Linked DNA regions of Homo sapiens. The protein of the gene in region 1 purifies or fractionates together with the protein of each later gene. This does not show direct contact. Each region holds a gene or a part of one and is shown in the gene's direction. Other genes may lie near its edges. The genes, in order: AKT3 and SNX8.

The links.
Region 2: the proteins of AKT3 (region 1) and SNX8 purify together in Homo sapiens (affinity purification with mass spectrometry; 2 studies listed by BioGRID and IntAct, with this or other methods). This does not show direct contact.

What each region holds. Positions count from the first base shown.
Region 1 is NC_000001.11:243,836,941-243,853,288, reverse strand, and holds the start of AKT3 (RAC-gamma serine/threonine-protein kinase), read left to right. Parts: upstream 1-3,045; 5' UTR 3,046-3,249; intron 3,250-9,704; exon of another isoform or gene 9,705-9,745; intron 9,746-10,006; 5' UTR 10,007-10,118; coding exon 10,119-10,164; intron 10,165-16,348. UniProt on the Homo sapiens protein: AKT3 is one of 3 closely related serine/threonine-protein kinases (AKT1, AKT2 and AKT3) called the AKT kinase, and which regulate many processes including metabolism, proliferation, cell survival, growth and angiogenesis.
Region 2 is NC_000007.14:2,266,118-2,282,465, reverse strand, and holds part of SNX8 (sorting nexin-8), read left to right. Parts: intron 1-4,160; coding exon 4,161-4,366; intron 4,367-7,236; coding exon 7,237-7,354; intron 7,355-10,494; coding exon 10,495-10,616; intron 10,617-12,826; coding exon 12,827-12,907; intron 12,908-16,348. UniProt on the Homo sapiens protein: May be involved in several stages of intracellular trafficking. May play a role in intracellular protein transport from early endosomes to the trans-Golgi network.

The sequences.
Region 1 (16,348 bases):
GTCTGGGTGACAGAATGAGACACTGTCTCTAAAAAAAAAAAAAAAAAAAAAAAAAAAAAAAAAAAAAAAAACAAAGAAAAAGAAAAAGAGGTCCAAGAGAGTTCCCTCACTCTTTCTAAAATGTGAAGACACAGCAAGAAGTCACCACCTACAAACCAGGAAACGGAACCCTCTTTAGACACCAAATCTGCTGGTGCCATGATCTTGGACTTCCCAGCCTCCAGAACTGTTAGAAATAAATTTCTGTTCTTTATAAGCTACCTAGTTGATGGTATTTTGTTATAGCAGCCTGAATGGACTAAGACATTAGATGCTCTGAAATTCTAAATATCCTTCCAGTTTTAGTTACTCCCAAGAAATGGGGGAAGTACCAAGAAATAGCTCAGTATCAAACTTAGTCATTGGTAGTAAAGAAGAATGAACATTTTTCTTAAAATGAATAAATAACTAATACTGAGAAATGTTAATCTTAAGAATATTTGGTGTAATAAAGAATGAAGGCTTTCTTTGCAAAATTTAGGAGGGACATTCCCAGGGATGAACATGCTGGCTGCACTCCATATTACTGGATGTGATAACAAAATAGAGAAGAAATCTGCCACACACTCTGTATGGAGTACCGACATACCACAATCGGCAGATTCTACCAAATTCATACCGGCATAGTCTAAGAGAAAGAACAACGTTATTTAAATAAATAATATCCCTAATCAATAGTAATTCAATAACAAAATCAAACATGCTTTTATTATGGAAACTTATGAAACTACTATAGTCCACAAGCAAAAATTGAACAGAAATAAAAACTTATAATTCTTCAAATACATGAAGCCGAGAGTATATAATCCATTCTCACATACTGAATTTTAGGGTTTAATCCACCTAAGATTTAATGCAATCTGACCAGACTGGGAGAAATATTTTGAGGTAGTATGGCTCATAAGACACATTCAGTTCTTGTAAATATATTGATGTTAAATTTGGGAACAAATGAACATCTCACTGATAAGAGATATCTAGTAATTCAGTAATTCCGGATACTCTGACTCTCAAAAGTTAAGTATTTAAAGTTTCAGACACTCTTTTTAGTGCTGGTGTCATAAGGGACTATTTTCTTAAAAATAAAAAGCAAGTTGGGGTACTATGGAATAAAAATATGACCTATTTTTGTGTTTTACAGCAAGAAACCTGTAACCCAATAATTTTACCAATAGTGACTGTGAGAGGTCTGATAATTATGGGAATACATTATGTATATTTTATAGATACAACGAAAATAGGACAAAGTCTGTTTATTCATCAGCTCATAGCATGCTGGGAAATATGGGAAAAGGGGAAAGGCATGGTGCAGGACTTTCTCTCAGACGGACTGTGTTATCTTAAAATGGCAAATTTTGCTCCAGGGTGGTCAGGGAGACAAGTTTCCCTTACAAACGGAGAAAACTGACTTTTTTAAAAAACCCTTTTATTTGGTTTCCTACTCCTGTCCACAATCCCAACAGATGCACAGTTCATAAAAGATGTGAACCTGGAAGTATAAATATTAATACCACACAGTACATAAATACCAGGGGGCTACAGTATAAGAAAATGACTACCATAAGAGAGTTGTCAAGACATAGAAAAGCAGAGAATGAAGTGCATGTCAGGAGGAGGAACTCTTCTGCAGAAAGAAGCCACAGACATTAACAAAAATGTTGCAGTGGGAGAAAGTAACAGGTACATCAACAAGGCTAGAGCCACGTGGCGGGATAATAGGGATGCTGCCCAGGTGTTTCCAGAAGCGATAAAACTTGTAAACTTTTATAATTTTCTGAAGTGCGCTGCATGGTAAAATATGGTCATTGTGCAAAAAAGTTGTCCCCAATGCAGTCTCAGGAGTCACTGACTTCAAAATAAAGAAACGGTCTCTTCGTAGTAAATGTAGTACCTCGTGGCTTTCCCAAAGTCATTGAAAACGAATATCCCTAAAAAGGGTGTGATTTCAAGAGTGAATTACGATCCGCCCGCAATCTGTGTACCGTGTGTGGACGAATGCTTGCAGCGAGCGGTGCGGAAGGCTGTTCAGAGAGGTGTTTTTGGTCTGCCGTGGTCTCCTGGGATAGTCAGGAATGATTCTTGCTACGGGCTGACCCGGGTTCCCTCTTCCCCGAGGTGCAGGGGGTGGGGTCGGCTTCTGGACTGCTCCGCGCTCTCCGGTCCCTACCTCATTGGGCACCGCCCACTTCGTGGGCTTCCAGGTGCGAGCCCTCGCGCCGGGCCCATCTCCCCAAGGGGCCGCGGCGGACTGGAGGAGACGCCCGGGGCCTGGCGGCGCGCGCGTCCGCGGCCAGGGCGGGTGGGCGGATGCGCCGAGGAAGCGGCTGGGCGAGGAGCCTCCGCTCCCGGGCCTCGGGTGCCCGCCAAGGGCCACGCGGGCGAGGGGGAAACCCAGAACTTCCCGCCCGGGAGCGACTGCCCCCGCTCCCGGCTCTGGCTGGCTAGGGGGATGTTCTCGCGAGAGGAGAGGGGGCGCGGGGCACCGCTGGTTTGGGGGCGCGGGGAAGCCTGAGGACGAGGGCCGGGCAGGGAGGGGAGCAGAGGCGGCGGGCAGGGCCGGGGACGCGGGGAAGCCGCTCCCGCCAGTCGCCGAGAGCCAGCCCCTGACGTCAGGAGTTTTCCTCAAAGTCAACAACAAGCCCCGCGGCGACGGCGAGAACCGATCGGCGGCGGCCCCGAGCGGGAGGAAGGAGGGGGCGGGGAGGCGGCGGGGGGTCCCCTCAGCGAGGCGCAGCCCGGGAGGAGGCCGCAGAACCCCTCCCCGCGCCGGGCGCGCCCCGGGGCCCAGAGCCGCCGCCCCGCCGGCGTGACCCGGCCCCCGCCCGAGCGGTGTTTTCTGGTGATGAATTTGTAGCCGATATCCGATTCCCATGTAGAGTCTCCGCCTCCTCCTCTCCCCGCCGCCGCCCTCTCTCCTCCCTCCCCCTCCCGCCGCCGCCGCCGCCGCCGCCGCCTCCCGCTCCAGCTCCGCGGCCCGGCCCGGCCGGCTCCCTCCCTCCCTCCCCTGCAGCCCTTCGCTTGCCCTCCCGCCGGCCGCACCGGGCTCCAGGAGGCCAGAGGCTCTGTGGGGTGGGGGGAGGACAGGAGGGGAGGAGGAGGGAGGGGGGACCCCCGAGTCGCCCCCTCTCCTCCCCCCGCCCCCCCCCGGCTCCATCCTCCGCCGCCGCCCGAGCAGCTGCGGGGCCGCCACCGCCGCCGCCGCCGTTGCAGGTAACAGCCACCGCCCCCAACTCTAGCCCCCTCCCCGCCTGGCCTCCACTCCCTCCGGGCCCCGGGCCCCGGTCCGCCCTCCCTGCCTCCCTCAGGCGGGGGATGGCGGCGGGGTGGGGTGAGGCGGGGGCTTCTGGGTTGTCACCGCGCCGGGGGCGTGGGCGGGGGCTGGGTCACCGGAGGCTTCGGGTGTGGGTGTGGAGGCCGGGGGATGCCCAGCGCGGTTGACACCGACACCCCCCGCTTTCCGGGGAAAGCTGGGGGGCGGCGGTGCGCAGCGGGCCGGGGGAGGGGTGTTCCCGGCCTAGCGGTACCGTCTGTGTCTGGGCTGCCCCGGCCCGGCGCCTGCTGTCTGCGCAACTCTCGCTCCTTCCCCTCGCCCCTCCCCGCCCGGGCCGCGCGGCGTGGGGAGGGGGCGCCCGCCTGGACCGGGGGCGGCGGCGAGGTTATATAACGCGTGGAGCGCCGGTGTCAGTGTGTTTGGGTTGGGGGGAGGGAGCCGTCTGCCGCGCGCCCTGGCGCTGAGGCTGTCTGCGCGTGGGGTGGGGTGAAGGCGAGGATGCACAGGCGTCCCCGGGGTCTCCTTCCTTCCCCCACCCTTCCCCGCCACTGGCGCGCAGGAAAAGACGGCACTGGTGGGGTGGGGGGGGGGGTGTGTGTGTGGGAGGTGGGTAACGTGCTTGTCTGTGTTTTTAATAGTAGTGGGGTTTTGATCCGCTTGGGAGTTGTGTGCTAAGAATAGAAATGTGCGGAAGATGCTGGGTTTGGCTGATCCAGTGATGCTGTCGCTGCTGGCGGCGGCGGCAGCTCTGGCTGCAAGTAAACAGACCAGCCTCTTCCTTGTCCACCTCCTCCGGCGCATCGGTCCGCATCAGCCATGATGCCGGTGGGGCCCTTCAGAGCCCAAAGTTGAAGCCTAGCTGGTTGCTGTGTTGACCCTGACGCCGAGGCGGGGTCACCATCCCTTGTTTGGGATTTCCCGGGAATCTACAGTTAGCCTAGAGATAAAGAATCTCGTTGGGGCCAGGTTTTTCCAATACCGGTATTTACTGTTTATGTTCTGAAAGCAGAGGAAATGCTTACCCACAAGTCAAAGCTGGGATGCTCACATTTCTTCCATCAAAATAATGTTGTTATGAAAATAAAACCAACTCATTTCACCAATGTGGCATTTTGGTTGAAAGCCTGGTAGTTTGCAATTGATGAAGTTTCCAAATAGAAAGTCAACAGTGAAACCTATGCATCTATATTGGGTAATTTCTAGCCATAATAAAGTGTTCACACTTTGATTTTAGTTGAGGCTAAAGTAAAAAATAATGGCTTTTTGTAGTTAATACATTGGCAGTTGTCTCAACAGTTTAGACATGTGTTCCGTATTTGGTAAAGCATGGTCATATATGTCTTTTAGTAGAACTATACATCACTAGGCAACCACTGGGTTTTGTCAGTGGTTGAAGCTGACAAATGAGTGAAACTCATTGGTTTAGGTTATGTATTTACTTAGGAAAACGAAGGTGGAAGAGTCTAATAAAGATGGTGTAGGAAATGAAGATTAGTCTTCAGAACTTGAGTATCACTTGCAAAATATGTATAAACGAATACAAACATTCCGGGGGTGGTTGTCTAAAACATGAAAATATTTTATAATTAAAATAGCAACTTATTACTAAGTTACTAGTTTTCCAAGGTTTATGACTTAATGCACAATTATATGCAAGATATATATCCGGACTGTAATTGTTTTCCTTTTGCCAGTACATTATCTTGACTTGGAAAGTTTACCAAGGAGATAGTACTTGAAAGTTTACAGGGAGATGGTACTTGAAGATCTTTTTGTTTTCCTTACTAGGGTTGACCCCAATATCTTTGATTGGCTTGAGGTTCCAGTTTTAAAGTGAGGGAGGACAAATATTACATGAATGAGACTGTTGAAATTTAGATGAATGTAGGGTTTTAGTTTTCAGTTGTGTATTTGCATTGTGGTTTTGCAGCATGTTTTCTTACAGCGTTTTAAAAATAGTCCAAAGTAATCCTGCAAAAATTGTGAAATTATTATTTGTATTCATTTGGTTTTCTTTCCATAATTATTACTGGAGTGAATTGTTTTCCAATTTAAAATTAATTTTTGGCTTAATAATCTTGACATCGACTCTAAATTGTATATGTCAGAGTACTTTAAGGTTTTGCTTTGGACTTTTTAAAAATTAATTTCATAGCTGTAAAATATTTTAAATAAGATTATATTTAACAAATACTGGAGTGTGAACTGTGTGCTGGTTTAATTAAAAACTTTTAATATTTACATTTCATTCAGAAAATCACTGTCAGAAGGAATCTGTTTTCAGAATCACTGCAAATCTAAATAAACGTGTTGATTAAACTTACTAGGGAACAAATGGACTTAGCATAGAGACTTGTGGAAAGTAAGGACTTATTTTTTAAGCTGTAGCTTTTGATGTAAACATCAGAAATTTTCTCATAAAAATTCAGTGGAAATTTCCAGCTATCTGGGTTTCTTTAAAATGAGGAACCTGTTTTACAAATTGATTTTGTAGAAGTTTAGCCTTTACTTAAACTTTGTGTATTTTCGTGAAAAGATAGCTATGTTTTCTTTTGTTATTATATCTTTTAGTTCAAGAATTTGTCCTTGGGAAGGTAAGGCAATCACTGTTAACAACTTGTTAGTTGGATGCTTAGCATGATTTGATAGGAGCTTGTCTTTATAGTGTGATTAAGTTTTGAAGTGTTAAAAAGAAAAATTTAAAACTATCTTAGATTTGAGCAACAAAATGCAAGAACTGAAAAACCATTTTCATTTTGAGCAAATCAGTCTTGTGATCTGACTGGCATTTTTATTTTTAAGTTAATATGCATTAATAATACAATTAATTTTTGTTAGAAGATTTGTGTTACTCCAGGTTTCAGCATGTGCATCAGTATTTTAAATCCTGGTCACACAGCATACCTTCTTTTGGAAAGATAGTCCTGAATCTTCCGACAACAAATACTTTGTCCTGATCTTTTACATGGGATAGGATTAGATTCAGTTTAGAGTTAATGCTAACCAATGCCTGGTAAGCAGTTGCCATGTGCCAGGCACTGTTCTATGTGCTTTACCTGTATTCATTTAATCTTTCAAACAACCCCTGCTACACTTTTGAAAGTGATTTTCACATAAGAAAAACTTATTGTGGCATTCTAAAAATACCTTTTATTTAAACTTTCCTAATTCTGCAACACTTCTAGTGTTTTTCTTGTTTGTACCTATTATTACAGTTAACAGTGATAATTCTAAATTTGCAAAATTTGGTACAATAATTTCCATAGCATCAAGTTAATAAAAGTGTATTGACTGGCCCATTAACATCACCTTTCATTTGTTTAAAATGCCAAATTAAATAACTCAAATGTTTACAGATTTTATTATAGCATCATAGTCTTTAATCAAATTAGATGTAAACTCATTTTCTCTGCCAAGTAATCTTTGAATACTAATGGGTAGATAAAATTAATATATGCTTCTTGACTTGTTGATGTGTTTTTTAGTTCTGTTTCTTTTCAGTACTCTATCACCAACTACAGGTATTTCTCATTTCTAAATATTATGAGAGGAAAGTAAAAAGATTTACTAGAAGAAAACACTAGAATTGCAAATGATAATTTTTCTTCCCTATATTAGATAATTCCTATATATATATGGATGGATTTAAAAAAATTTATAATTAGGGAGATTCCCAAGACAGATTTTAGGAGGATTTTACATGTATATTGGAATCTATATTAGAAAGCTTCTGACTGTATTTGGGGGACTAGGGGATGGGAGGGGAAGGAGGACAGTATTTTTCCAATAATGGAGCTTAGCCCAAATTTTGTCTTAGTTGAAATGCTGTTTGAATGTTTTATCTTCCAATTATCAAACTTTTGAGGACATGAACTATGTATGTATAATCATGTCTTTCACTTATGATGCCATCTATATATGAAGTAGATACTCCGTAGATTTTAACTTGCAGAATCATAAATATTAGCTCTGGAAGAGCTATAAAGCTATTCAGAGTTCATCTAATGCTATACTTTCATTTTTATGGCTCCGGAAACTGAGGCACAGATAATTAAAGTGACCTTATACAGCATCACTCTGGGTGGGGCAGGGACTCAAGTTTCTTGGTCTTTCTGGTGCTCTTCCTAATACACCATTGTGATGAACCTTGTTAGAGGATTCCATACCTATTGGGTAGCTCAGTTTAATCTGGGGGTAAATTCTGTCAAGCTGATTCTTGGTATTTAATGGACCATATATCAATTGCATTTTATATGTATGTATGGATTTTTAAAAATTTATGATGAGGCTCCCAAGACAGATTTTAAAATGATTTTACATGCATATTACAAAAATATGGCCAACTGTGCAACCAAATTCTTTTTCTTTTCTTTTCTTTTTTTTTTTTTTTGAGACAGGTTCTCACTGTAGCACCCAGGCACGGTCACCACTCAGCATAGCCTAGACTTCCTGGGCTCAGGTGATCCTCCCACCTCAGCCTCCTGAGTAGCTGGGACTACAGGTGCCTGCCACCACTCCCAGCTAATTTTTGTATTTTTTGTGGAGATGGGTTTTGCCATGTTGCCCAGGCTGGCCTTGAACTCCTGGACATAAGTGATCCTCCTGCCCTGGCCTCCCAAAGTGCTGGGATTACAAACTAATATCCCTTTTTGACACTCTACAGCAACAGACTCATGGTGATTTTGAGGAGTCTCAGCCTTACCTATAGGTTCTGCCTGTGACCTCATAATACATGAGGCTGGTGGTCTTGCATTCAGCTACATAGCTTTTGTCAGGCTATTTAGTCAGGCTGTCTAGAGAATGTTTAGTCTTGATTCCTGACTGTTAAATGGTTAAGCTCCACACTTAATTTGCATTGAAGAATGACCTGTAGTCTAATTTAGCGCTAGGTTGGGAGTCTAACACTGAACTTAACTGCTATGTATCATTTATCACAAACCAAGTTGAGAGAGTATGTTTGTGTAGTCCATCTATCCATTTTTCTAGTTATCTAAAATTTATGATATGATTCTTGACCACATAACACTGGTGTACCTGGACCACATTTTTTGGTCCCCTTCTGTGCAAATGGATTTACTAATTTTATGTTGGCATTTTCCTTTTTAGTTTGAGAGTGACAATAAGCAATGACCCTGTAAAACTCATTGCTGTATATGGGAGGGTGTTTTTGAGGACTTTCCCGCATACATCTTATGAAGAAGACCCATGGGATAAATTCGATGTTTGTCCCAGGAAAAGTTGTATTTCTTCTGAGGAACTTTTTTTGCTTTTTAAAAAAATTTGTGCAGCGTGGACAATATAGCGGGACCCCATCTCCACAAAAATTTTTTTTAAAAATTAGCTAGGCATGGTGATGCCTGCCTGTAGTCCAGCTCCTCAGGAGGCTGAGGTGGGAGGATTGCTTGACCCCCATTGGAGGCTGCAGTGAGCTATGATTGTGCCACTCTACTCTAGCCTGGATGATGGGGGGAAACCCCATCTCAAAAAAAAATTTTTTTTGGATACTGTAAATAGGAAAGCCTGTTGTGTTTTGTTATTTGCATTGTCTTCCCAAGAGCTCCATGCCAAATTTGTGACGTATCTTTCCCAAGTATGTATGCCTTTACTCTGACTTCTTTTTATCTTAAGGCAGTATAGTTTTGGAATGCAGGCTCTGGAGTCAGACAGCCTGGGTTCAGATCTTGGCTCCACATTTACTAGGTGTGTTGAAATTGAGCAAGTTGGTTTATCTGTGTGAGCCTCAGTTTCCTTGTCTGTGAAATGGAATTAATAGTATCCTCATAAGGTTATAAAGATCACATAAGAATAATAGATGTAAGTACCCGTAACAGTTCTTGGCACATCTTGAGTACTAAATATTTTTTTCTACTTTCATATTCCCTTTGTTTCACTTTACTTTATAATAAGTACATAATATGAAATCAATTATTTTTTAATCTCCTTAAAATATTTCTTGGAACAGGCAGAGTAAGAATACGTAAATGATGAGTTCTTGGTACGTTGTATTTTATATCACTTAAAGTATTCACGACTGGTTGTGGTGGCTCACTTCTGTAATCCCAGCACTTTGGGAGGCTGAGGCGGGTGGATCATGAGGTCAGGAGTTTGAGACCAGCCTGGCCAATATGGTGAAACCCCGTTTCTACTAAAAATACAAAAATTAGCAGGGCGTGGTGGCGCACACCTGTAGTCCCAGCTGCTTGGGAGGCTGAGGCAGAAGAATCGCTTGAACCTGGGAGGTGGAGGTTGCAGTGAGCAGAGATCGCGCCACTGTACTCCAGCCTGGCGACAGAGTGAGATTCCGTTTCAAAAAAAAAAAAAACAAAAAATTTACAATTGCTTCTGAAATTACAGGGATTTAGGGCAATTAACTTTCATTCTCTTCCCTCTTCACCTCAAATACACATCACCAAACAAATTTTCTCTATTATTTGGGTAGGCGTGACTGGTTTTCTTAAGACTTTTTTGTTGCAACCTCTTAGGTTAAAAGTTTCACTATCATTTGAAATTGGTCACAAGACTAGGGAAGTGCTTTCATTATAGAACTATTTAATAAATAAGTTCCCCAGTTTGAAGAGCCAGACTTTTATGTGAGGTCAGGCCAGTTGAAGACATTTACAAAGAATTAGTTGTTTGTTATTGCTCTGTGAGTTGCAAGAATGGAAAAAAAATTCTTTCTTCAATACTTCCTTCCAGGCTGAGTCATCACTAGAGAGTGGGAAGGGCAGCAGCAGCAGAGAATCCAAACCCTAAAGCTGATATCACAAAGTACCATTTCTCCAAGTTGGGGGCTCAGAGGGGAGTCATCATGAGCGATGTTACCATTGTGAAAGAAGGTTGGGTTCAGAAGAGGGGTAAGTGCTCCGCAAACCAAAAATAATACGGTTGGTAAGAGTGCTAGCAGTGAGTGGTGTCTTAGAAGTTGATCTTTTTTCTGATACTGTTAAACTGTGTCATGCTATGTCTAGTAAGAGAGAAATGATATATTTAACGTGTGTTAGGAATTTGCTTGTTATTAAGGGATTTTTTTGTAATTCTTGATTTTGAGCATTTATAATCTAGTTAAGTTAGGTTTGACTTTCTGGTATGTTGTGTGTAGCGTGTTACAGAAAGTGTTGTATTTTTCTGTGGTGTCTACAGGTTCTGTAATCTGGAGAGATATCTTTAGAATCATTTAATATATGTAAAAGTACGATCCTATATGCATTTAATCACATGTAAATATATAAATAAGAGAATTAAGCCAGTTTGAATGGTTGTAGGGGAATGGCTTAAAGTAGAAAAGGGGAAAGGGTTCACCCGCAAACTCATGGATTAATCCCATAAATTTGGTAAGTAAAGTCCTGACGTAAAAGGCCAAATGAGGACAAGGATTTTTTGTGTGTGTATGTTTATGTTTAATTTCGTATTTTTATTTTTCATCATCTAGGTTTAATACACCTTGTTCACTCCTACTTTAGATAAATAACTTAAGCACATTATTATTTTTTATTATTAAAGGAAGAACCCTTCGATGTAAAGCGGTTTATCATCTGTGAGATCACCTGCTTATGTGGTCAATATATTTATTAGAAATTTAGAGTTTAGATTAGTTGCTAGGCAACTACTGTTTACCCACATGGCCACGTCGAGTAGGATGAGGACTGTTCCATTCTCAGAACCTTTTAGTTCCTGTATATCTACTTTATGGTTACAAGTTCCCTCCTAATATTGATTTTAATATTTTTTGAAGGTCTGTAGTAAATACCTATCCTGAAAAGCTGTTGTCATAGTTAAATGTGATTATGGATTATTTTTTAAATGAGCCTTATTAAGTCGTAACTTACATAATAAAATTAAGCAATGTAAAGTCATAATTTGATGAGTTTTGCCAGAGATACACAGTAGTGTAACAAACACTCTGAAAACGATATAGTGGTTATTTTCATTAACCCGAGAGGTTCCTTTGTTCTCCCTTGCAGCCCAGTCCTCATCCCTTAACCCTGGCAACCACTTTATCTGCTGTTACTATAATTTTGCTTTTCTAGAATTTCATATAAATGGAATCATGCAGTACATAGTTTTTTTATGGCTGATTTCTTTTACATAGCATAATACTGTTAATATTCATCCATGTCTTGTATATCATTAGCTTTTTTTTTATGGTTGAGTAGTAGTTCATGGTCTGGATATATCACAGTTTATCTGTTAATCACTTGTTGGACATTTGGGCTGCTTCTAGCTTTTGGTTAGTACGAATAAAGAGTCTGGACATTAGAGTGCATGTCTTTGTGTAATGTGTTTTCATTTGTCTTGGGTAATAACTTAGGAATGATATTGCTGGGTCATATGGTAAGTGTGTGTTTAACTTTATAAGAAGTATATGTTTAACAAACTGCCCAGCTGTTTTCCGATGTGCCTGACCATTTGTATTGTCAAGTGTAATTTCTTTCAATGTCATTCTCCTGTTATAAATTACGAAAGCATTTTCAGATTTCAGTGCTTTATAAAGGCTTTTTTGATTTACTTTTTAAACGTATTTATATTATTCTACTTTTTTTGGAGGGGGATGGCAAATCACTTGAACCTTTTTGAGTTTTACTTTACTAATCTCTAAAATCTGCTTTCACAAGATGGTTTTGAGGGTTAAATGAGATGATGGTTGTGGATTTATTTTGACAGTTCTAACACAATGTAAGCTGTTGCTATCTCCACATATTTATCAAAGGTTTAGGATGATTCTTTAGTCTGTTTAATTAATTATATCTTTGAAATACCATAATAGAAAGTATTTAGTCCATGGACTATAGAAAAAAAAATGAATAAGAATTTGCCATCATTTTTCTAATAATGTGTATGTGTTTATTTTGAGATGTGTATGTGTATGTGTTTCTAATAATGTGTATGTGCTTATTTTGAGATGAATAGTTGCATAAACATAAAAATTTGAATAACACACAAAGGTATAAAATGAAAAATAAAAATCTCCCTATCTTTTCTACCTCCTTTGTCAGAGATAATCATTTTAGAACTTTTTTTCCTATTTTTAATTGTCTCATCATTATGCCAGTTTTTTATATAATATACTAAACTTTAACCTTCAGTAACCTAATATCTCCCCATTGTGAAAAATAGAAGGATTTAACTTTTAATACTGATCCTACCTTCTTCCTTTTATTTTTTGGTTGCCTTTATGATTAAACTTATAGCTGTTTAACAGTTAACTTTAGAGTGTTCAGACATTGTCTCTAAACTTGCCACTTTATAAGTTGTAAAAAAAAAAAATTAGCTTTTCTCCTCATCTTTCCCTTGAATTCCTCACATTCCCTTTCCAGTTTTTCAACTGTAACATTTATTTTATATGTCAAGGTTTATAATAGTTATACTTGCTGATTCTGAAAAGCAGTTAAAATATTACATTATATAAATAATATGACTAAACAAAGTGGTATGATGAGATTCTTAGAGAGCAAATGGATTTATTTTATTTTACTTTAAGTTCTGGGATACATGTGCAGAACGTGCAGGTTTGTTACATAGGTATACATGTGCCATGGTGGTTTGCTGCACCTGTCAACCTGTCACCTAGGTTTTAAGCCCCCCATGCATTAGGTCCTCATGCTCTCCCTTACCTTGCCCCCCACCCCCAGCAGGCCCTGGTGTGTGATGTTCCCCTCCTTGTGTCCGTGTGTTCTCATTGGAGAACAAATGGATTTCTTACGCTCTCTTTGTACTCCAGAGCTGCCATACTTTAATTTGGTTTCTAGTTTGGACTGTGGCTATTTTTCCTGGATTTTCTTTATTTTTATTTTATTTTATTTTATTTTTTGAGACGGAGTCTCGTTCTGTCACCCAGGCTGGAATGCAGTGGCATGATCTCGGCTCACTGCAACCTCCGCCTCCCGTGTTCAAGTGATTCCCCTGCCTCAGCCTCCCGAGTAGCTGGGATGCCACCATGCCAGGCTAATTTTTTGTATTTTCAGTAGAGACGAGATTTCACCGTGTTAGCCAGGTTGGTGTCGATCTCCTGACTTCGTGATCTGCCTGCCTTGGCCTCCCAAAGTGCTGGGATTACAGGCGTGAGCCACCGCACCCGGACCTTTTCCTGTATTTTCTGTTTTTTTTTTTTTTTTGAGATGGAGTCATGTTCTCCGTCTCATCAACAACAACAACAAAAAATTGATATAATAAAGTTATAATATAGTTATTACTTTGAATATTAGTCTTTTTTCGTAAGACTATATGCATCAATTGTTGTTATCTCCAGATATAATCTGATTTGTACTTTTAATGTGAGTAAGTTGCTTTTCAGTAAATATCTTCTTGGAAAATAAAAAAAGGGCTGAAAGATAAATATTCATTATTACGTAGGATAAATGCTTTCCTAACCTTGGTTATTAGTGATATATTAATAGTGATATCCTATTTTTTACACTTTTCTGGACAGTTGAAAATGATAAGTATTAATTGAGATAACACATTACCATAGTATTGTTGGTGTTAGAAATGGCAATAAAAGAAACATCACGGAGCAAACATCAAGTAAAGTATTGTCTGCGTTTTCCTCCTTGATGGATCCAGGACAGCTCCTTACAACTTGGTTGCACATCAGCATAGGAGGCATCTCTGTATATATTAAATACTTACTAAATGATCTTACTCAAAGACGAGCCTGTAGGTATGTTCTAGGTGACTCTAAATCTCTAAATTGGATTTCAGCACTTCTCTTAATTTTTTCCCTTATAGCTAGTGGTAATATTTGCTATGAAGGTACTTAGTGTATTAATAAAGTAGGAAATTTAGCCAGTTTAAAAGGTCTAAATTATAGAATTAAATAAATTGCAATAGTATTAATTAAGGGCTTATTATAATTTATTAACTTTCATTTGCTTAATAAAATTTCATAAAAACCTAAGTAGTCTTTTATAAATGTGGAAAGCTAGTTCCTTGATAATAAGTTAAAATATAATGTATAACTAGTCAATTCATAATGTTACTGTTTTGAGATTGTCATAAATCTAAGAGGTGATTTTTATCATTAAAAGCATTTTGATGAAAATGTTCCATGCTCGTGTTACTTTATTCTACTTTTTGTATTAGTATCTAACAAACTGAACTTTCATGTTGTATTCTCTATGTGTAACCAGTTTTGGCTTTCAAATAACTTTTTCCCTTAGTTTTCTTTGTACTGACTTTGTCCTTTGAATAATATTTTTCTTATATTCCATGAAATGGTTTATTTAGATGAACTACAGTGTCGGTATTTGGTAATGCCAGGATAAAGATTTTGTGTCTATGAGTTGTCTCACAAGATAGCTTAATTCTGCTGAGCAAAATATACTTTAGCAACATAAAGATTGTGAACTTGGTTATGCTGTAAGATGTGATTCTTGTTATCTAGTCAAATTTAACAAGTTGTTACAGAAAACAATTTACATTTTTGAGTGTTTATCTAAGTCCAGGGGTCTTTTCTTCTCCTTTATTTTGTGCATGCATGTGTTTTTTTTTGTTCATTTTTTATTCACAAAATGACTTTAGAAATAAGTTATAAAATGATTAGGAGAAAGAAAATGACAGTATGATTTCCTGTTTACTACCCAGCAGCAAGCTTTTTCCATAGAGAGTAAAGAGCTGTGGTAGTGACTGTGTAAACCACATGGTACATTAGAGAAGCTCACTTTGACTGTTGAGGTTATACATGGAGAGTAAACATAAGAAAATTAAATTTATTTTCTAATGGTATTGAAACTCTGAGATTTAACTAATGTATTTACAATACTGTGAAATTAGCTTTTCTTAGAGTTTCAATGTATTATTTTTGAAAGTTTCAACCAATAGAACCACATGGAGCAAACCATCAAATAAGCTTTCATATACATTTTGAAGTTATTTATAGAATTGTAAAGTTGCTGTTACACACACACTTGCTCCTTCTCAATCAACAATCAAGTTTTATGTATTGATTTTGTAAGTTGAAGTCTCATGAAATTCACTTATTAATGTTAGTTTAAAGATTTTCTACATAGATGGTCAAGTTATCTGCGAACATCCACAGTTCTGCTTTTTCCTTTCCAATCTTTATGCCTCTGATTTCTTTTTCTGATCATATTTCACTGGATAGGACCTCCAGTACATTGTTGAATAAAAGTGGTAAGAGTGGATATTTTGCTTTATTGCTCATCTTATTGGGAAAGCATTTATTTTACCACTTAAGTATCACATTAGCTGTTCCTTTTCTGTTGCTGCCCTTTATCAGGTTGAAAAAATTCCCTACTATTCCTAGTTCGGAGAGTTTTTATCATGAGTGGTGGTCAGTTTTTTCTAAAGATTTTACTGCTTCTATTGAAATGGTCATTTGATTTTTTCCTTTTATTCTCTTAATATGGTGAATTACTTTCATTGCTGGAATAAATTCCATTTGGTCATGGTGTATTTAAAAAAATATATTACCAATTTGGACTTACTGATATTTTGCTAAGGGTTTTTTGCATTTACAAGAGTATTGATCTGTAAATTTCTTTTCAGTTTTGATACAGTGGTTATGCTGGATTCATAAAATAGGTTGGGAAGCACTTGTTTCTCATAAGGTGGATTGTATTTTTTCTTCAGTGTTTGACAAAATGTATCAGTGAAGCCATGTGGGTTGGAGCTTTCTTTGTGGGAAGATTTTTGATGATAAATGAGATTTCTTTAGATACAAGGCTATCCATATTTTCTATTTCCTCTTGTGTCATTTTTGGTAAATTGTATTTTTTAAGGATTTCCTTTTCATCCAAGATGTTCGTCTAAGTTACTGGGTGCAAAGTTTTTAATATTCCCTTATCCTTATTTTTATTTTTTTAGTAGAGCCAAGATTTGCTCCATTGCCCAGGCTGACCTTGACGTCCTGGGCACAAGTGATCCTCCCACCTTGGCCTCCCCGAGTGCTGGGATTACAGGCTCCCTTATCTTTTGAATGTCTGTAAGATCTTAGCGATATCTCCTTATTAAATCCTGATATTGGTAAATTATATACTTGCTCTCTTTTTTCCTTTGATAATCTTGCTAGGAGTTTATTCA
Region 2 (16,348 bases), on another chromosome or scaffold:
GCTTGTGGGTTGTTTCCCCTTTTTTTGTTGCAAAGAGGGGTCACAGTGGGCCGGCGGCTGACTTGGGCCTGACTTTGCCCCTCACCGCATGCCTGGTTTCTGTGACAGCTGCCCAGCCCCCTCTCACAGTTTATCTTTGCAAGTGCAGCATCCAAGTGTGACTCCCACACATTGTGTGGAAGGCACCAATTTGTGAGCCAGTCTGGGAGCTGACCGCCACCGAAAACTTGCTGAGAGGGGAATGCATTCTGAGTTTTAGTGGGTAGATCTGCAGAATCTTTTCGGATTGGAGCGTGGTAAATCTGGAAGGAAGTCAGGGACACTTATTGAATGTTTTCTATTTGCTAGTTATTTTCAGCTCTCCCACCTCACTGAATTCTGAGGCCCTTGGCCTGGGATCTGAGGGGCTGCTTCCCTCCCAGGGTCTCACAGATAGTGAGCGGCATTTCAGGGGCAAGACACTTCCAAGTCCAGGTTCCGGGTTGGGTCTGAAGCCCACAGTGAAGCAGTTTGGTGCCAGAAGGGTTGGAGTGGGGAGGGGCTGTCGTTCGAGGGGCCTGTGGGGGGTTGCTGTAGTATCAGGGCATAGATGGCGATGGCCAGGCCCAGGGGTGAGGGCATCCTTACACCCACCGCACGGATTTGAACAGTAAGCTCAGAGGCGGCTGCGTGCTAGGCCACAAAGCTAGGAAATGATGGAGGCTGGATTTCAGCCAGGATCTCTCTGAGCCAGATCCCATCCTGCGTCCACAGCCTTTCCAGCTGGGGGCCAAGCTGGCCTCCCTCATCTCATCTGTTTTCTCTCTGTGGGACTGGGTTAGTTTAGGGTGTATTGTCCAGGCTCTGTGTCTTATGGGCTGTGTGCACTGCTTCAAGGGGTGTCAGTTTGATAGAGTATTGAAGTTCCATTAGTGAGCATAACGTTTATTCCTGCAGAAAGCCGGGCTCCTCCTCCTGGTGTTTCTGCCCGTTCTGCAGTGTGTGGTCCGTCACCTGGCAGTGTACCCATTTGAAATGATGTTTTTTTTTTTTTCCTTTTTGTTTTTATAGACAGGGTCTTACTCTGTCACCCAGGCTGGAGTGCAGTGGCCCAATCTTGGCATACCGCAGCCGTGAACTCTTGGGCTCAAGCAATCCTCCTGCCTCAGCCTCCTGAGTAGCTGGGACTACAGGTTGCGCCAACATGCCCGTAATTTTATTTTTTGTAGAGATGGCATCTTATTATGTTGCCCAGGCTGGTCTTTAACTCCTGGGCTCAAGTGATCCTCTTGCCTCAGCCTCCCAAAGTGCTGGGATTGTAGGTGCTAGCCATAGTACCTGGTCTTTTTCTTTCTTTTTCTTAATTAAAATTTATTTTGCAAATATGGGCATCTGGCCGGGCGCGGTGTCTCATGCCTGTAATCCCAGCACTTTGGGAGGCTGAGGTGGGTGGATCATTTGAGGTCAGGAGTTTGAGACCAGTCTGGCCAACATGGTAAAACCCTGTTTCTACTAAAAATACAAAAATTAGCTGGGCATATTGGTGCACGCCTGTCATCCCACTTACTCTGGAGGCTGAGGCAGCAGAATTGCTTGAACCCGGGAGGTGGAGGTTGCAGTGAGCCAAGATTGTGCCATTGCACTCCAGCCTGGGCAACAGAGCGAGACTCTGTCTCTCAAAAAAAAAAAAAAAAGGGCATTCTAGTTTAGTAAATTGATATTTGAAAGCATAGCTTTCTAATGATTGGAACTTGTACATAGAAGTTATTGAGATGTTTGAGACAATCGAGAGTTAAAGAAGTGTCTTTGATTTAAAATGTGTTTTTTGAGCTCTTTCAGATTCTCATGCAATCAAAGTTCAAATTCTTCACCAACATGTGACCACTTGGTAATCATTACTGAGTTTACATTCTTTCTTGGAAGATTATCTTATCTTAATAATCAGGAAAATCATAAAAATTAATACATGCTTAATAGAGAACACTTATTTTAAACTTTTTTTTTTTTTTGAGACAGAGTCTCTGTTGCCCAGGCTGGAGTGCAGTGGCGTGATCTGGGCTCACCACAACCTCCGCTTCCTGAGTTTAAGTGATAATTTTCCTGCCTCAACCTCCTGAGTAGCTGGGATTACAGGTGTGCGCTAACATGTAAAAAACAAAAAAAATGAGAAACACTTTTTTTTCTATTTAGAACTCACTTTGTATTAAAAACCAAACTGACTTTTTAAACATTATTCCTTGTTTTGGTTTTTTCTTTGCAAGCTGGGCGTAGGATCTCTGATTTGCTTTTGCTGCTTTGTGCAGGGTGCACGGTGACTTCTTGTCTGTAAGGCAGCTGGAGTTTTCTGGCTTAATTCTTCCGTGCATGTGGTTGGGAGTCCTAGCTATAAGCAGGCCTGGAGTTTTTTCTCTTTCTTTCCTCCCTTCTTCTCTCCCCTCCCTCCTGTCTGTCCAGATGACTTTTTGGCATATGAAAGTAATGTGTTCACTGTGAACACACTGGGGCATTTAGAAGATCGTATGGCTAGTTTATTTGGTTTGAGCCTGTTCTCTTGGCTCTAGAGAAAAGGAAGATTCTTTTTCACACAAAACTTGTACATATTTCACTTTGTTTTCCTTCCCCAAGGTTAAGACTGATTTGATGTAGTCACAGAAATGTGGGTGTACTTGCTGATTCGTGAGCAGGTGGAAGCCTTCCAGGGAAGAGTTTTTTTTTTTTTTTTTTCTTTTTTTTTGAGACAGGGTCTCACTCTGTTGCCTAGGCTAGAATGCAGTGGTGCAATCATGGCTCACTGCAGCCTCCGCCTTCCCGGACTCAGGTGATCCTCTCACCTCCCGAGTAGCTGGGACTGCAAAATTAGCCAGTGAGCCACCACGCATGGCTAATTTTGTATTTTTTGTAGCGATGGGGTTTTGCCATCTTGCCCAGGGTGGTCTTGAACTCCTGAGCTCAAGCGATCCTCTTGCCTCGGTCTCCCCAAGTCCCAGGATTACAGGCGTGAGCCATGGTGCCTGACCACCATGATTTTTTTGAACAAAAGGACGTGCCCGCAGCGTCGACTCTGTAGCATGAGTGAGTGGGTCCAGCGTTGACTCCGTAGCATGAGTGGGTGTAGTGTGAGTGAGTCCAGCGTCGACTCCGTAGTGTGAGTGAGTCCAGCGTCGACTCCGTAGTGTGAGTGAGTCCGGCTTCGACTCCGTAGTGTGAGTGAGTCCGGCTTCGACTCCGTAGTGTGAGTGAGTCCGGCGTCGACTCCGTAGTGTGAGTGAGTCCGGCGTCGACTCCGTAGTGTGAGTGAGTCCGGCGTCGACTCCGTAGTGTGAGTGAGTCCGGCTTCGACTCCGTAGTGTGAGTGAGTCCGGCGTCGACTCCGTAGTGTGAGTGAGTCCGGCTTCGACTCCGTAGTGTGAGTGAGTCCGGCGTCGACTCCGTAGTGTGAGTGAGTCCGGCTTCGACTCCGTAGTGTGAGTGAGTCCGGCGTCGACTCCGTAGTGTGAGTCCGGCGTCGACTCCGTAGTGTGAGTGAGTCCGGCGTCGACTCCGTAGTGTGAGTGAGTCCGGCGTCGACTCCGTAGTGTGAGTGAGTCCGGCTTCGACTCCGTAGTGTGAGTGAGTCCGGCGTCGACTCCGTAGTGTGAGTGAGTCCGGCGTCGACTCCGTAGTGTGAGTCCGGCGTCGACTCCGTAGTGTGAGTGAGTCCGGCGTCGACTCCGTAGTGTGAGTGAGTCCGGCTTCGACTCCGTAGTGTGAGTGAGTCCGGCTTCGACTCCGTAGTGTGAGTGAGTCCGGCGTCGACTCCGTAGTGTGAGTGAGTCCGGCGTCGACTCCGTAGTGTGAGTCCGGCTTCGACTCCGTAGTGTGAGTGAGTCCGGCGTCGACTCCGTAGTGTGAGTGAGTGAGTGTGGCTGGCTGACGATGGGACCTGTTGCATGACGTGGCCAGAGTCCATGTGCTGAGCTAGCACACAGCAGAGGGAGGCTGCACTTTTCAATTTATTTTATTTTTTGTACAGATGGGGTCTCACCATATTACCTAGGCTGGTCTTGAACTCCAGGGCTCAAGTGATACTCCCTCCTGGGCCTCCCAAAGTGCTGGGATTACAGGGCTGCGCCACTGTGCCCAGCCAAGGCTCCAGCTTTTGAGCAGCTATTCTCACTGGTCATTCACCATCTCCCCTGCAGATCTGCCGACACCCCAGGCCATCGAGCCCCAGGCCATCGTGCAGCAGGTCCCAGCCCCCAGTCGAATGCAGATGCCGCAGGGGAACCCGCTGCTGCTGTCCCACACCCTGCAGGAGCTGCTGGCCAGGGACACCGTGCAGGTGGAGCTCATTCCGGAGAAGAAGGGCCTCTTCCTGAAGCATGTGGAGTATGAGGTTTCCAGCCAGGTAACTGGCAAATTGTGTGTGTGTCGGGGCAGGAGGGGGAAGAAAGGGTCACGTCTCAACATCTCAGGGCAGGAGTGGTGTGACAGGAGAAGGCTGAAGGGTGAGTCTGTGTGGCTGGCTTACAGGCAAGATCCAGAACTCGCAGCAGAGTCAGGCTGCGGAGGTGACTTTTCCACACCTCTGCTCCCCGCACCTCACTCTGGCCCAGCCACGTCCCCACCTGGTCACCCCTGGTCCAGTTTGTCCTCCCCACCACTGTGCTCTGGAGTCCTGTTTCTTTTTTTTTTTTCCCCGATGTGGAGTCTTGCTCTGTCGCCCAGGCTGGAGTGCAGTGGCATGATCTCGGCTCACTGCAAACTCTGCCTCCCGGGTTCAAGCGATTCTCCTGCCTCAGCCTCCCAAGTAGCTGGGATGACAGGTGCCCGCCACCACGCCTGGCAAATTTTTTTGTATTTTTTTTTTTAGTAGAGACAGGGTTTCACCATGTTAGCCAGGGTGGTCTTGATCTCCTGACCTTATGATCCACCCGCCTCGGCCTCCCAAAGTGCTGGGATTACTGGCGTGAGCCACCGCGCCCGGCCTGGAGGCCTGTTTCTTAGGAATCTCCCGCGGACGGTCCACAGAGCACAAAGCGGGATCCACACCAGCCTCGCTTTGTAATAGTGGGAAACCCCCGAGGATTAGAATGTCAGCCCCATCGACTCCGGACCCCAAACAGTGAATGAAATTTGCATGGCAGGATCAATATGTGTCACTCTAATCCCCTTTAATAACACGGCCCTCCTGTTGCTGGGCATCCCGATATTGGGCAGGTGAGACACAGACACCGAGTGCCTGATGCCCGTCTGGAGCAACACCGTGGCTCTCTCTGTCCCTTGCTTCGTTGTCTCAGTTCCATTACGACAGATTCTGATGGGAGTTTTCATTGTTCATCCTGGGCATTGAGTAATTGATGAGCTAACACTGTCCTTGGGAGGTGTGGAGTCAGCAGGGCTTGTGGGATTCGCACAGACAGAGCAGGGCCCACTCCTGTGTGGGAGAGGGCGGCCCTGGCCCAGCCCCGGCCGGACGGCACTGCCAGGGGCTTGTTTGAAAAGCGTCATGAGCAGATGGTCCTGGGTAAAAGTTGTGTCTTTTTGTTTGCTTGTTTTTAAAGAGACAGGGTATTGCTCTGTCAACCAGGCTGGAGTGCAGTGGCACGATCATAGCTCACTACAGCCTCAACCTCCCAGGCTCAAGCAACCCTCCCACCTCAGTCTCCTGAGTAGCTGGAACCACAGGCGGATGCCACCACACCAGGCAGTTTTTTAAATTATTTGTAGAGATGGGATCTCACTATATTGTCCAGGCTGGTCTTGAGCTCCTGGGCTCAAGTGGTCCTCCTGCCTTGGTTTCCCAAAGTGCTGGGATTACAGGCGTGAGCCACCATGCCCAGTCTTTTTTTTTTTTTTTTTTTTAAAGTACAAATGGAGACTTGCTATGTTGTCTCAGCTGGTCTCGAACTCCTGGGCTCAAGCAGTCCTCTCACTTTGGCCCGCCAAAGTGCTAGGCTCACAGGCATGAGCCACTGCACCTGGCCTTAAGGACAAGCGAGCCGGTCTCCCCTCCCTGCCGTCTGCTCTGCTGTGCTTCACTGTGTTCCAGAGCCTGTGGCCACACGGTCCGAATGGTTGTCAGTACTGCTACCAAAGGACAAAGCGGGTCAGAGGGGAGGACTCCCTTGGAGGACCGTGTCAGAGCCGCCTTGCTGTCTGGCTTTGCCGTGGTTCCCGGCCCTCTGGGCCGCAGTCGGGGATGTGGACCAGCTGGTGGGATGCCACGGGGGAGCAGAGCGAGCCACCCCTTCCTTCTGGGGCCTGGCAGCCTGGGGGTGAGGCAACTCTGAGCGTGTGAGACGTGCCGTTGCCTGCCAGGGAGCCAGCGGCTGGCCTTTTGTCCAGTCTTACTAAGCTGCCCGTCCCTTAAGTAAATTCATTGCCACATAGGGAACATTTGTCAAGGGGGCAGTTTGGTCACCCTGATGTGTGTGTAACGGGCCAGTCACTGACCAGGTGGGAAGCCACTATGCTTCATACCATTTGTTTAGTTTTTTTTTTTTTTTTGAAATGGAGTCTCGCTCTGCCGCCCAGGCTGGAGTGCAGTGGCGTGATCTCAGCTCACCGCAAGCTCTGCCTCCCGGGTTCACGCCATTCTCCTGCCTCAGCTTCCTGAGTAGCTGGGACTACAGGTGCCCACCACCACGCCCGGCTAATTTTTTGTGTTTTTAGTAGAGACGAGGTTTCACCGTGTTGGCCAGGATGGTCTCGATCTCCTGACCTCATGATCCGCCTGTCTCGGCCTCCCAAAGTGCTGGGAATGCAGGCGTGAGCCACCGCGCCCGGCCTTTTTTAATTTTTTTAAGACAAGGTCTCGCTTTGTCGTCCAGGCTAGAGTGCAGTGGCACGATCTTGGATCACTGCAACCTCTGTCTCCAGGGTTCAAGGGATTCTCCTGCCTCAGGCTCCAAAGTAGCTGGGACTACAGCCGCCCACCACCATGCCCAGCTAATTTTTGTATTTTTAGTAGAGATGGGATTTTGCCATGTTGGCCAGGCTGGTCTCTTTAACTCCTGACCTCAGGTGATTCACCCGCCTCAACCTCCCAGAATGCTGAGATTACAGGCGGGAGCCACCGCACCCGGCCTAAGAGCTATACAAAGTTTAAAAGTTGTATTTCCATATACGAAGCCGTCACAGGGTTTCTCCATTTAGTAAAGGCCTGGTGAGAGAAGATGCACTTGGTGCTGTCGTTTTCCCGGGCTCTGTTGAGGGGAAGTGACGCGACAGCATAGTTTCCAACGTCGGATCTAAGCACCGACCCTTCTCTTGCAGCGCTTCAAGTCCTCGGTATACAGACGGTACAATGACTTCGTGGTCTTCCAGGAGATGCTCCTGCACAAGTTCCCCTACCGTATGGTGCCTGCCCTGCCACCCAAGAGAATGCTGGGAGGTAAAGCCAGGCGTGCTGCCCACCGGGGGCGGAGGGAGCGAGCCCATCTCCTGGACCCTGTGGTCCTGGCTCAGGGATGGACCCCACTGTAGACCGGGGCAGGTGCAGGGCTGCGGGGGAAACTCCAGCCTTTTGGCATCTGGGACAGAGCTGTGGCTTGAGCCCAGCCTTGGTGCAGGCAGGGAGACTGGCACCCGGCAGCCTTGGCCCACCAGAGCCTTCAGCTGCATGACTGACAGGTGGGGAAGCCCTTGCTGTGCAGGTGTGAAAGAGAACCCTAGTTCTCCTCTCCAGAGTGCAGTGGCCAGGGCTCCCGAGAGCTCCCGAGAGGGCTGCCAGGAGCACTGTGTGCTCACCTGGCTGGCATTGCCCTGCCTGCATCTGCAAAGCCATGGCAGCCTGAGCCATGGGCACCATGGGAGCGCTCGGTGGCCTCATGGAAGAGAACTGAGTTGTGCAAGTAGGAAATGTCAGCTGCATCTTGCAGGAGAGAAAAAGCAGCACACGGCTGCCTCACCTTCACCTCTCTGCCTGAAGATGGCCTCGGGCCAGGTGGGAGATCGCAGACGACCTCAGAGCTGCTCCCCAGGCCTGTGTCCCCCTGGGCTGCAGAGCTTGGGATGGCGGCTGCCAGCTCTGATCTCACTGGTGGTCTCTCCCTCAGCCCGTTCCTCAAATTCTGAATAAAACATGCTGGGGAAATGAGTGCTTAGAGCTGATCATGGCTTTCTGCCGTTCCCAGCCCTTCCACAGTCACCGTGTCCTGGACGGGGACGCAGCATGGGAGCTAACACAGTCGCCAGTTCCCCGCATCTGAAATCGTACGATGATGCATAAATGCTTCTGCCTCTCATCGGTCACTGAGCAAGCAGCCCAGGGTCTGATGATGTGATTTTCACCCCGCCGCATGTGAAGGCCACAGAGCAGATCATTCAGCTCACGCTGAAGGGCACACGGGCGCTCAGGGCAGCAGAGAGCAGAGGACGCGACAGGGATGTGTGATGCTGGCTCAGGCCTGGGCATCCGAGTTGATGAGCGCTGGCTGGCGTTCAGCGCCTGGAAACTGCACACGCGCGCTGGGCCGCTTGCGCATTTAAGGAAGTGCAGCCTCATCGGAAGAGGCCTGCCAGTGCTGAGCCAGGAGGGAGCCCCAGCCACCTACCTGTATTGTTTGTTTTCTTTCTTTTATGGTGTTTTTTTTTTTTTTTTACATGGAGTCTCGCTCTGTCGCCCAGGCTGGAGTGCAGTGGTGCAATCTCGGCTCATGGCAAGCTCCGCCTCCCGGGTTCACGCCATTCTCCTGCCTCAGCCTCCCGCGTAGCTGGGACTACAGGCGCCCGCCACCACGCCTGGCTAATTTTTTTGTATTTTTAGTAGAGACGGGGTTTCACCGTGTTAGCCAGGATGGTCTCAATCTCCTGACCTCGTGATCCGCGCACCTCAGCCTCCCAAAGTGCTGGGATTACAGGTGTGAGCCACCGCACCTGGCCTCTTTTATGGTGTTTTTTGTTTTTGTTTTTGTTTTTGAGACGAAGACTCGCCGTGTCACCCAGGCTGGAGTGCAGTGGTGCGGTCTCGGCTCACTGCAAGCTCCGCCTGCCGGGTTCACGCCATTCTCCTGCCTGAGTCTCCCAAGTAGCTGGGACTACAGGCGCCCGCCACCACGCCTGGCTAATTATTTTTTTTTGTATTTTTAGTGGAGATGGGGTTTCACCGTGTTAGGATGGTCTCAATCTCCTGACCTCATGATCCACCTGCCTCAGCCTCCCAAAGTGCTGGGATTACAGGTGTGAGCCACTGCGCCTGGCCTCTTTTATGGTATTTTTCAGAGACAGGGTTTCGCTACGCTGGCCAGGCTGATGTAGAACTCCTTGGCCTCAAGTGATCTGCCCTCCTCAGCCTCCCAAGAGGCTGGGATTACAGGTGTGAGCCACACTCCTGGCTGTATTTCTTAATACATTAAAAATAGTATTTAAAGGCTGGGCGCTGGTGGCTCATGCCTGTAATCCCAGCACTTTGGGAGGCTGAGGTGGGCGGATCACCTGAGGTCAGGAGTTCGAGACCAGCATGACCAACATGGTGAAACCTCCTCTCTAATAAAAGTATAAACATTAGCCAGGTGTGGTGGCGGGTGCCTGTAATCCCAGCTACTTGGGAGGCTGAGGCAGGAGAATCGCTTGAACCTGGGAGTTAGAGGTTGCAGTGAGCCGAGATGACACCACTGCACTCCAGCCTGGGCGACAAGAGTGAAACTCCGTCTCAAAAAAAGTATTTAAATACCATTTTTGTTTGTGTTCAGATTGAAATGTCCTGAATGCATCAGTATATGCTTTTACTTTTTTTCCCCTTGGAGTGAAAATATTTAACCCGAATGAAAGCAATGAGTAATTGCATCCTTTGCAGAGTAAGTTATAAGCACAGTGAATAGAAAAACTCGGCCGGGCGCGGTGGCTTACGCCTGTAATATCAGCACTTTGGGAGGCCGAGGCAGGTGGATCACCTGAGGTCAGGAGTTGGAGACCAGCGTGACCAACATGGTGAAACCCCATCTCTACTAAAAATACAAAAATTAGCCAGGCATGTTGGCGGGCCCCTGTAATCCCAGCTAATTCCAGAGGCTGAGACAGGAGAATCGCTTGAACCTGGAAGGCGGAGGTAGCAGTGAGCCGAGATTGCGCCACTGCACTCCAGCCTGGGCAACAGGAGCGAAACTCTGTCTCAAAAAAAAAAAAAAGAAAAGAAGACCTGGGTTGCGTTAGTGTTAGAGCGTAGCAAAACCCATTTGTTTGCAGTGAGAAGTGCCAGGAGGGGATTATGGAAGATGTCTTTAACGGAGGTGATTAAAGTGACCACTCACGTGGTTCCCAGGACTCCCGATGGAAACAAGCAGATCTGTGGTTTTCCTTGGCAGCTCCTGGACCCAAGTGTGTGTGGCTGGAGGGGGCCTCTGGGGGTGAGGTTATTGCTCTGGGCGGCCTTTTCAGACCCATTGTCTGAGCAGCACTGGGGGCCCAGCCAGTGCCCTCTGCTAGCCGCTGGGCCCTCTGCCACCTCTAGGGAGAGTTTTGAGAACTCGCCCAGAGCAGAAGATGGGGGCCGGCGCCCTGGACTCTGTCCAGTGACCCCGTGTGCTCCTCCAGCTGACAGGGAGTTCATCGAGGCCAGGAGGAGAGCCCTGAAGCGCTTCGTCAACCTGGTGGCGCGACACCCCCTGTTCTCCGAGGATGTGGTCCTCAAGCTCTTCCTGTCCTTCAGCGGCTCGGTGAGTGTGTCTGCCCTGCCCATGTCCCGGCCCCGGGGAGTCCCCGAGCCTCCGGACCCGCCTTTTCCTCTCTCAGGTGTGGTTTCTTATCCTCCTGGTCCCTTGTTTGGACGCCCAGCAGGAATGACATGGACAAGACTTCTTTCCTTTCCAGATAACAGTCTGAATGTGATTTTCAGAGGTGTCCCTGGTGTTGACTTTGCAGGATTTTGTAAATCCGCGTGGAGATCATGGATCTCTGTGGTCACTTTGAGGATTTAGGCTGGATGGTTTGGAGGGTTTAGGGAGGTGCCAGAGACTCCAGATGGGAAGAAGTGTTGACTTAAAACAAGGCCCTGTCTGACTAAGGACCACTGGAACACAGGCTGAGCCTCCTTGTCAGAGCCACAGCCCACACCTGCATCCGGGAATTAACTTGTTGTACATGCACTCCGTCAGAGGTCTGAGTGGGGCTTCCCTCCTCCCAGCTGCTGCGGCACAGCCTTATTGTGTGTCAAGAAGCTACAGTTCGCAGGTACAGTGGCCCACGCCTCTAATCCCAGCGCTCGGAGAGGCCGAGGCTGGATGGTCCCTTAAGCCCAGGCGTTTGAGACCAGCCTGGACAACATAGCGAGACTTCGTCTCTACCAAAACAAAACTGAGGCCAGGCATGGTGGTGCACACCTGTAATCCCAGTCACTTGGGAGGCTGAGGCATGAGAATCGCTTGAACCCAGGAGGTGGAGCTTGCAGTGAGCTGTGATTGTGCCACTGCACTCCAGCCTGGGCGACAGAGTGAGACCCTGTCTCAAAAAAACAAAAAACAACCCTGCAGCCCAGCTCCTGTTTCCTGGAGGAGGAAGCAGCTGCCAGCCCCTCCAGGGAAGGCGGGTCCTGTGCTTCTCCTCCACCTGTGCCTGCAGGACCCTCTCCCTGTGCGGGGAGGGGCGGGGGCTCCACTGGAATAGAGGTTTCCAGGCTCTCCTCTATTTCAGGGAAACCCCGTCTTGAATGGGGACCTGACGGCCTCTGTCCTTGTCCCTGCTGCAGGAAGACACCCCCTCTCCCAGGCTGACTTCACACAAGCCTTGGTTCCTTTTGTCTTCGTTCCTCTCGGAGGCAGAGGGGCCTTCCCCCTGTGCCTGAGATGTCCCTGGGATGCCCCCGGGGATGTCTGGAGCAGGCAGTGGGATCTTTTGAGCCCTGGGGTTGGAAACCTTCCTTTGGAGGCGATCTGCATTGCCAGCAGAGGAATGTGGCAGGACCTGGGAGGGGCGGTGGGCAGGGGTGCAGTGGGTCACAGGTGGGCAATATCCCTGTTCTGGGGGCAGGACGTTCCCTGTGGCCTTCCCACAGGTATCATTCTCTGTCACTTCCCGGCCTCAGTTTTCTTGCTTGCTTTCTGTTTTTAGAGATGGGGTCTCACTATGTTACCCAGGCTGGCCCTGAACCCCTGGGCTCCAGCGATCCTCCCGCCTCAGGCTCTGAGTAGCTGGGACTACAGGCACGCACCATGCTGGGCCTCAGGTCTTTTTTTTTTTTTTTTTTTTTTTTTTTGTAAAATGAGAGTTGAGTCAGATGATCTTTAAGGCATCTCTGAAACCTGAGAATTCCTGGACACGCAAACAGCTGCATATTAGGGTTTCCCCTTGTATCTCCTGGGTGGCTCCTGACTTTAAGGCACGGCTTTGCCCAGGAGGCCTCTTTCAGATGAGAGGGCTCCGGTGCCAGGGGCTGGGCCTGTCCCTCTGCCCAGCAGCTCCCTGGGCTCTGGTGTCCCTGGCGCCATGGATGCATTCCCAGGAAGGAAGACACTTTTGCCCTGTTCTATTGCGTTTTTGGAAGCTACCAGGGTCTCAGGTATCTCTGGGGCTGACGCCGCCCCGGGTCTGTGGATGGAGGGGCCGTTTCTCTGCAGAGCCGCCCCTGGTCTGTGGATGGAGTGGCTGTTTCTCTGGAGAGCTGCCCCCCGTCTGCGGATGGAGTGGCTGTGCCTCTGGAGAGAGGCTGCAGGTTTGTGGTGCTCCTGCTGTGAAGCCAGGCTGTCCTGTTTGGTGAGAAAAACATCTAAGGGAGAGTCAAGAGATTGCAGAATACTAATGTCAAAGCCAACATATGGAAATGTGTTTCTCCTGAGGAAAGACGACCTCCCGCTCCACAGTGACCCATACCCCACAGCAGCTTTCTTGCTGCTAGTAGAAGAGGGTGAAGCTGTGTGTTTTCCTTTTGCAGGATGTGCAGAACAAGTTAAAGGAGTCAGCACAGTGCGTCGGGGACGAATTCCTGAACTGTAAGCTGGCTACCAGGGCCAAGGTATTTTTCTTTTTTTTTTCTTTTTTTTTTTTTTTAATTTATTTTTTTATTGATCATTCTTGGGTGTTTCTCGCAGAGGGGGATTTGGCAGGGTCATGGGACAATAGTGGAGGGAAGGTCAGCAGATAAACAAGTGAACAAAGGTCTCTGGTTTTCCTAGGCAGAGGACCCTGCGGCCTTCCGCAGTGTTTGTGTCCCTGATTACTTGAGATTAGGGAGTGGTGATGACTCTTAACGAGCATGCTGCCTTCAAGCATCTGTTTAACAAAGCACATCCTGCACCGCCCTTAATCCATTTAACCCTGAGTGGACACAGCACAGGGTTGGGGGTAAGGTCACAGATCAACAGGATCCCAAGGCAGAGGAATTTTTCTTAGTACAGAACAAAATGAAAAGTCTCCCATGTCTACTTCTTTCTACACAGACACGGCAACCATCCGATTTCTCAATCTTTTCCCCACCTTTCCCGCCTTTCTATTCCACAAAGCCGCCATTGTCATCCTGGCCCGTTCTCAATGAGCTGTTGGGCACACCTCCCAGACGGGGTGGTGGCCGGGCAGAGGGGCTCCTCACTTCCCAGTAGGGGTGGCCGGGCAGAGGCGCCCCTCACCTCCCGGACGGGGCGGCTGGCCAGGCAGGGGGGCTGACCCCCCCCCACCTCCCTCCCGGACGGGGCGGCTGGCCGGGCGGGGGGCTGACCCCCCCACCTCCCTCCCGGACGGGGCGGCTGGCCGGGCAGAGGGCCTCCTCACTTCCCAGTAGGGGCGGCCGGGCAGAGGCGCCCCTCACCTCCCGGACGGGGCGGCTGGCCGGGCTGGGGGGCTGACCCCCCCCACCTCCCTCCCGGACGGGGCGGCTGGCTGGGCAGAGGGGCTCCTCACTTCCCAGTAGGGGCGGCCGGGCAGAGGCGCCCCTCACCTCCCAGACGGGGCGGCTGGCTGGGCGGAGGGCTGACCCCCCCACCTCCCTCCCGGACAGGGCGGCTGGCCAGGCGGGGGGCTGACCCCCCCACCTCCCTCCCGGATGGCACGGCTGGCCGGGCGGGGGGGCTGACCCCCCACCTCCCTCCCGGATGGGGCGGCTGGCCGGGCGGGGGGCTGACCCCCCCCACCTCCCTCCCGGATGGGGTGGCTGCCGGGCGGAGACGCTCCTCACTTCCCAGATGGGGTGGCTGCCGGGCGGAGAGGCTCCTCACTTCTCAGACAGGGCAGCTGCCGGGCGGAGGGGCTCCTCACTTCTCAGACGGGGTGGTTGCCAGGCAGAGGGTCTCCTCACTTCTCAGACGGGGCGGCCGGGCAGAGACGCTCCTCACCTCCCAGACGGGGTCTCGCCGGGCAGAGGCGCTCCTCACATCCCAGATGGGGCGGCTGGCCGGGCGGAGGGCTGACGCCCCCCACCTCCCTCCCGGATGGGGCGGCTGGCCAGGCGGGGGGCTGACCCCCCCACCTCCCTCCCGGACGGGGCGGCTGGCCAGGTGGTGGGGCTGACCCCCCCATCTCCCTCCCGGACGGGGTGGCTGGCCGGGCAGAGACGCTCCTCACCTCCCAGACGGGGTCTCGGCCGGGCAGAGGCGCTCCTCACATCCCAGATGGGGCGGCGGGGCAGAGGCGCTCCCCACATCTCAGACTATGGGCGGCCGGGCAGAGACGCTCCTCACTTCCTAGATGTGATGGCGGCTGGGAAGAGGCGCTCCTCACTTCCTAGATGGGATGGCGGCCGGGCGGAGACGCTCCTCACTTTCCAGACTGGGCAGCCAGGCAGAGGGGCTCCTCACATCCCAGACGATGGGCGGCCAGGCAGAGACACTCCTCACTTCCCAGACGGGGTGGCGGCCGGGCAGAGGCTGCAGTCTCGGCACTTTGGGAGGCCAAGGCAGGCGGCTGGGAGGTGTAGGTTGTAGTGAGCCGAGATCACGTCACTGCACTCCAGCCTGGGCACCATTGAGCACTGAGTGAACGAGACTCCGTCTGCAATCCCGGCACCTCGGGAGGCCGAGGTTGGCGGATCACTCGCGGTTAGGGGCTGGAGACCGGCCCGGCCAACACAGCGAAACCCCGTCTCCACCAAAACCAGTCAGGCGTGGCGGCGCGTGCCTGCAATCGCAGGCATTCGGCAGACTGAGGCAGGAGAATCAGGCAGGGAGGTTGCAGTGAGCCGAGATGGCAGCAGTACAGTCCAGCTTCGGCTCCGCATGAGAGGGAGACTGTGGGGTGAGGGAGAGGGAGAGGGGGAGGGGGAGGGGGAGGGGGAGGGAGAGGGCCAAGGTATTTTTCTAACTTTGAAGAGTACATCCCTTTTTAACCAGAGAAACAAGTTTTAACCCTTCAAAGTGATTTTGCCTCCTCTGCGTGGCAGGGATTATGCTGACATCTGTCGCATGGTTTCCTCATTTAACCCTCGTTTCAGTTGCTCCGACACAGGGCTGGGAGGCCTGTTTTACGGATGGAGAAACAGGCTCAGGGAGGCTGTCATTTGCCAAGGCCCCGAGCCTCTAAGCAGCAGGGCCGGGTTGCGGCTGAGCTCTGCCCTCAGGCCCTCCAGGCACCTCGTGCCCTCTGCCCTTTTCTGTGACTCAGACAGACGGATGCTTGTGTCAGCACCTTTTCAGATTTCTGGGGATTCATTGTTACATTTGTTTATTATTAAATGTTTAAAGTTTGGTCTTTTTCCAAAAAAGACTAAGGTAGCTACTTGGTAGTTTTTTTGTTTTTGGTTTTTTCTTTTTAAACCTCTTCTTCAGGCTGGCGCGGTGGCTCCTTCCTGTAATCCCAGCACTTTGGGAGGCTGAGGCTGTCGGATCACTTGAGGTCAGGAGTTTGAGACCAGCCTGGCCAACATAGCAAAACCCCATCTCTAATAAAAATACAAAACAAAAAAGGAAAACAAAAAAAAGCAAAACAAACCCCAAAAAACCGGCCGGGCGTGGTGGCTTACGCCTGTAATCCTAGCACTTTGGGAGGCCGAGGCGGGTGGATCACGAGGTCAGGAGTTCAAGACTAGCCTGACTAACATGGTGAAACCCCGCCTCTACTAAAAATACAAAAATTAGCTGGGTGCGGTGGCGTGCACCTGTAATTCCAGCTACTCAGGAGGCTGAGGCAGGAGAATTGCTTGAACCTAGGAGGAAGAGGTTGGAGTGAGCCAAGATTGCGCCACTGCACTCCAGCCTGGACGACAGAGACACCATCAAAAAAAAGAAAAAAAAAATTAGCCAGGCTTGGTGGCAGGCACCTGTAATCCCAGCTATTTGGGAGGCTGAGGCAAGAGGACTGCTTGAACCCAGGAGGCAGAGGCTGCAGTGAGCCCAGGTCGTGCCATTGCACTCCAGCCTGGGTAACAGAGTGAGACTTTGTGTCAAAGACGACAACAACAACAACAAAAAAACCAGAAAAAAACCTGCTTCTTCATACAAAAATTAAAAATCTATTTTATTTTATTTTT